2 separate regions of the Homo sapiens genome follow, and region 2 is linked to region 1. A link means that fine-mapping ties the variant in region 1 to the expression of a gene that starts in the linked region. Tissue or cell type: esophagus mucosa. Region 1 holds a variant in brackets; the other region holds the start of a gene. All regions are shown on one strand. Distances are between the middles of the regions.

Region 1 (2,911 bases):
GTGAGCCACCGCACCCGGCCCTCCCCACCCCTCTTTATTACTTTCTATGGAACTCCAATTACCCATATGCTATACTGCTTTATATTTTTCTATAGGTCATTGAGATTTTTTATTTTTCAGTCTTTCTCTTCTATGTGCTTCAATTTTGTATAGTTTCCGTTGCTGTGTCTTCAGGTTCACTTATTTTTTCTACTGTAGTGTCTAAACTCCCATTAATTCTTTTTTTAAAATGATTTTTATTTTTATTTTTTTTGAGATGGAGTCTTGCTCTGTCGCCCAGGCTGGAGTGCAGTGGCACGATCTCGGCTCACTGCAAGCTCCGTCTCCCAGGTTCACGCCATTCTCGTGCCTCAGCCTCCTGAGTAGCTGGGACTACAGGTGCCCGCCACCGCACCCGGCTAATTATTTTTATTTTTATTTTTAGTAGAGATGGGGTTTCACCATGTTAGCCAGGATGGTCTCGATCTCCTGACCTCGTGATCCACCCGCCTCGGCCTCCCAAAGTGTTGGGATTACAGACGTGAGCCACCGCGCCCGGCTAAACTCCCCTTAATTCTATCTAGTGGAAGTTTTATGTCAGATAGTGTAATTTTAATCTCTAGAATTGCCATTTGCTTCTTTTTTGATGCGTTTTATTTCTCTCCCCATTATATTCATCTTTTTGTAAGCCCTTGAGCATGTTGATCACAGTTAGAACTCTTTAAACATTCTTATGTTAATTCAATCATCTCTTTAATTTCCGGGTCTGTTTCCATGGACTGATTGCCCTACTGGTTATTAGCCACGTTTTCCTACTCCTTTATGTGTTCAGTAATATTTTATTGGAGTCTGGCCATTGAAGAATTTTATATTTTTGAGTGCCGTAAATATATGTATTCCTGTTAAGAGTTTCATACTTTGTTCTGCCCCTGATTTATGTTGCCCAGCTTACTTTTCAAGAGTTTACTCTTTAAGCTTTTTTAGAGCAAAGGCAGAGGTAGACTTCCATGTCAGGCCATTCCCCACTACTAAGACATTAGCCTCTTGGGGTATTTACTTAACACTCAGTGTATTCAAGTAATTTTCTTCCTTTTGGCTTTGAGAACTGAAATGATTCCCTGACTTGTATGAACTCTTGGGATTTTTCAGATTTTGCTTCCCTGGTAGTAGGTCTTTGCCTAAAAGTGCTTTGCCCAAACTTGTAGAGCTTTACCGTACCC[A/G]TGACTAGATTAGCATTCAAAGCCGCAAGGGGAACACTTGTGCAGACTTCTTTCTTTTTTTTGAAATGGAGTTTCGCTCTTGTTGCTTAGGCTGGAGTGCAATGGCGTGATCTTGGCTCACTAAACCTCTGCCTCCCGGGTTCAAGCAATTCTCCTGCCTCAGCCTCCCAAGTAGCTGGGATGACAGGCACCTGCGACCACGCCCAGCTAATTTATTTCATTTTTAGTAGAGACGGGGTTTCACTATGTTGGCCAGGCTGGTCTCCAACTCCTGACCTCAGGCAATCCACCCGCCTCAGCCTCCCAAAGTGCTGGGATTACAGGCGTGAGCCACCACACCCGGCCCCTTGTGCAGATTTCTGAAGCTCTTCCCTGCATAGCACCCTCCTAATATATTGCCCTCCAAATTCTAGTCTCTTGGCCTCCTCAAACTTTGATTTTTGTCTCTTCAATGCAATAACACCTTTGGGTTCTTTTGGGGCTCCACCTCCCTGTGCCACAGCCTAGAAACTGATTCCAGGCAGAACGCTATTGTAATCATTGGGCTCACTGCATATGCTTCCTTTCTTCTTGAAATCATAGTCCAGTGCTGCCTGTTTTCCCATGTTTGAAATCATTCCATATATTTTGTCCAGTGTCTTATTTGCTTATTGTAAAAAGGTAAGTCTGGATCCTGTTACTCTCTCATGGCCAGTAATGGAGGTTTGCCATTTTAATCATAATAAATTTTATTTATTTACTGCATTTAACAAACATTTATGGAATATCTACCGTGAAGAGCCCAGAAACAGGGAAAAATGATTCAGACTAATGCTTATACAATTAAAAAGTTACAATATTGTGGTAGCTTTTAAGTATGACCCCAAAATTCTTTGACACTCTTTCCACCAAGAGGTAAATTTTATTTCCTCTTCCCTTAAGTGTAGATGCTGTGACTGCCTGTCCAAAAGAACATGACTGAAATGATGCTGTGCTTATTTCCTAGCCCAGGTCTTAAGAAACTGGCAGTTTCCCGGCTCTTGCAATACTCAGTTGTATGCCCATCCAACACACTGAGAGGAACCAAGCAGATACATAGGAGCTCCCATGTAGTTGTTCTGGTTGGTAACCCCAATGACTCAGTCAACTGCTAGGACCAACTGCCAGACATATAACTGAGCAAACTTTGAAATGACTGTAGCCCTGGCTGTAGTGATTCCAGCCTCTGAGCTACCACCGCTGAGACTGTGTGGTCCTGGCTAAGTTCTAACCAAATTTCTGTTTGTAAGCAGAAGAAATGATTGTTGTTGCCCTAAGATGCTAAATTTGCAATTTGCAGTGCTTAATTTTTTTTTTTTTTTTTTTTGAGATGGAGTTTCGCTCTTGTTGCCCAGGCTGGAGGGCAATGGTGTGATCTCGGCTCACTGCAACCTCCACCTCCCGTGTTCAAGCGATTCTCCTGCCTCAGCCTCCTGAGTAGCTGAGATTACAGGTATGCGCCACCATGCCCAGCTAATTTTGTATTTTTAGTAGAGACAGGGTTTCTCCATGTTGGTCAGGCTGGTTTTGAACTCCCGACCTCAGGTGATCTGCCCCCCTCGGCCTCCCACAGTGCTGGGATTACAGACGTGAGACACCGTGCTCAGGTATAATAGACACCTGTAACACATACCATACCATTAAGTGCTATATAATAGAGGTAGTCAATTAACAAATGGATTAACAAATATTTA
Region 2 (2,911 bases), 21 kb before region 1:
AGAAAGGCATGAACCCGGGAGGCGGAGCTTGTAGTGAGCCGAGATCCCGCCACTGCACTCCAGCCAAGACCGAGCGAGACTCCGTCTCAAAATAAATAAATAAATAATAAAAAGAAAAAAAGAAAATAGTAAACTTTTCCTCGCGTTTACATAAGTTAATACTTCGAGTGATAATGGGAAAATAACTTTTTTAAAAGGCAGTGCAATTGAGAAATGGAAAAGCATTTTCCCAACAGGTTTTGAGAAGCAGTTGACACAAAAGTCACTTTGAGAGCTCTGCGAAGAGCGACAGTCATTGTGTAACCTTAACTTGCAAAGTCATACTCAAAGCCAAAAATCAAGGTCCAGCTTATCAGCCACGGAGCCTGAGGCCATAAAGATGCTGGGCAGGAGCTCCACGCTGGGATAAGTGGGGTGGTTATTTCAAAATCGTCCCAAGTGACAAGCTCTAGGACGTGCTGTGCTTTAAAAAAAAAAAAAAAAAAAAGTCGCGGTGAAATTAACAGGGGCGAAAACTCTGCCCAGCGATCGCAGCATGAAGCTCTGCGCTCCCGAGACCATCGAGTGGCCAGGGCTGGGCGCTCCTTCAACAGCAGCGAAGGCAGCGGCGCCGGGGCAGCAGCCACCTCCCCCGCGGGCCGGCACCGCATTCCTGCCCGGTTCTATACTTAACCTCCGGCCAGCGCCCCGCCGTGCACCGTATTAGGCAATGCCAGGCGCGCAGGGCCCGGCCCCCCCGCCCGCTCCATTCAACCCCGGCGGTGGCCGCGGCGACAGCTCCCTTCCCCCACGGCCGCTGCCCGCACCCCCCGCGCCCCTTACACCCCGGCCCGCGCCCCCTGAACCCGGAACCTCCGCGGACCGCGGCGCGGGGAGGGCCCGAGGGTGCCCCGCGGCGCGCGTACCCCGCGGTCATGGCGATGTCGTAGAAGGTGAGCCAGGCGGTGGCCAAGACCCCCAGGCGCCTCCGCTCGCCGGGAGCCTCCCGGTCCTCGCCGGCCTCCGAGGCGCCGCCGTTGGTGCCGTCCTCGTCGCTGGACGCCATGGTGGCCGCGCACCTGGGGGACGTGGGAGACAGCGGCAGGAGCGTGGGAGGGGACCCTGCCCAGCCTGCAGCCCGAGAGCCGCTGCCCGCTGCCGCCGCTTCCGTCAGGCGCCCCATGTGCAGCGCGCAGGGGGCTCGGCGCAGCCAGCTCTACCGACCGCGAGGGGGAGGAGCGGACGCCCCCGGCCACCGCCCGTCACGCCCCCGCCCCGCCCCGCCCCTTGGGAGCGCGCGCCACTCGGGGGCCAGAACGCCTGGCCCTGGCACTGGGGATCCAGGACCCGCGAGCCCCGGCACGCTTTCCAGGCGGCGCTGTAGTTTCCGCTCCCGAGGAAAGTGCACCCGCCTCGCTAGCTGCGGGCGCCTCTTCATAGAGAGACGCCCAGACGCCTTGCGCCCTGGCGATGCGCACCCTGCGAGTGCATTTAGTGGGGACACAGGGAACGCACCTGAACTTGGCGTGGCTCTGCCCTGCCTGGCCTTTTGTAAGGCAGTTTCTCAATACGCAGGCAGGGAGCGGGATCTTCCCGCCACTCATTCTTTTCTTTTTAGAGATGCGGTCTCAGTCTGTCTCCTAGGCTGGAGGGCAGTGACGTGAACATAGCTCACTGCAATTTCGTGAGCTCAAGCAATCTTCCCACCTCTGCCTTCCAAAGTTCTGTGATTACAAGCCTGAGCCACAGCGCTGGGCCAAACATTCATTCATTCTTAAGAGCTTCTGGGGAAGAAACGCCTATTTCGCCCTGTTTCCCGTTTACTAGCGAGTCCAACAGGTCTTCCAACAGTGAGAAGACCGTCCCACTTGAGTGATTTTTTTTTCCTTTTTCATTTCTTATTTTTTTTTTTTTTTACAGTCTGGAGTGCAGTGTTGTGATCTCGGCTCACTGCAACCTCCGCCTCCCTGATTCAAGAGATTCTCCTGCCTCAGCCTCCCGAGTAGCTGGAACTACAGTCATGCACCACCACGCCCGGCTAATTTTTGTTATTTTTAGTAGAGACGGTTTCACCACGTTTGCCAGGCTGGTCCCGAACTCCTGGCCTCAAGTGATCCACCCGCCTTGGCTTCCCAAAGTGCTGGGATTACAGGCGTGAGCCACCGCACCCGGCCTCACTTGTGTGAATTTTACCGGAGCGTGTGTGTGTGTGTGTGTGTGTGTCTGTGTGTCTGTGTGTCTGTGTGTGTGTCTATTTACCAAGTGTCAGGCCTCTGAGCCCAAGCTAAGCCATTATATCCCCTGTGACCTGCACGTATACATCCAGATGGCCTAAAGTAACTGAAGAATCACTAAAGAAGTGTGGCCGGTTCCTGCCTTAACTGATGACATTACCTTTTGAAATTCCTTGCACCTACTGAAATACAACCCCCAAATTCCTGAATCCTCCCATTTTATTAGCTGTGTGAACTTGGACAACGTAACCTATCCATGCCTCAGTTTCCTTAGTGGAAATAATTTTTAAAAATCGTGAGCAGAGATCGCCCGTTGCACTCCAGCCTGGACGACAGAGTGAGACTCTGTCTCAAAAAAATAAAAAAAAAAGGAAAGGAAGGCTGGGTGTGGTGGCTCACCCCTGTAATCCTAGCACTTTGGGAGGCCGAGGTAGGCAGATCACTTGAGGTCAGGAGTTTGAGGCCAGCCTGACTAACATGGTGAAACCCCGTCTCTACTAAAAATACAAAAATTAGCGGGGCATGGTGGCGGGCGCCTGTAATCCCAGCTACTCAGGAGTTGAGGCAGGAGAATCGCTTGAACCCAGGAGGCACAGGTTGCAGTGATTTGAGATCGCCCCATTGCACTCCAGCCTGGGTGACAGAGCGAGACTTCTTTTCGAAAAAGAATAAAAATAAAATAAAGGGAAGAAAGAAGT

Direction of the effects. Alleles are on the strand shown, and positions count from the first base shown. SD is a standard deviation of normalised expression in the study named.
In carriers of allele A in region 1, the expression in esophagus mucosa of the gene that starts at base 1,197 in region 2 tends to be higher than with G alone (small effect, 0.38 SD a copy in GTEx).

Evidence for each region.
Region 2: HACD1 starts here. The variant in region 1 is fine-mapped to the expression of HACD1 in esophagus mucosa (GTEx, PIP above 0.99).

Annotation. Positions count from the first base shown.
Region 1 is chr10:17,636,879-17,639,789 of GRCh38, forward strand. No RefSeq gene overlaps it. Among named protein-coding and RNA genes, the nearest start is that of STAM-DT, 5.6 kb to the right of the region's middle. The variant A/G (reference allele first, on the strand shown) is at 1,200.
Region 2 is chr10:17,616,178-17,619,088 of GRCh38, forward strand. It overlaps HACD1 (3-hydroxyacyl-CoA dehydratase 1), which reads right to left and starts at 1,197. Exons shown (of 7, transcript NM_014241.4): 1 at 906-1,197. The coding sequence starts at 1,162. RefSeq lists a silencer at 738-1,397.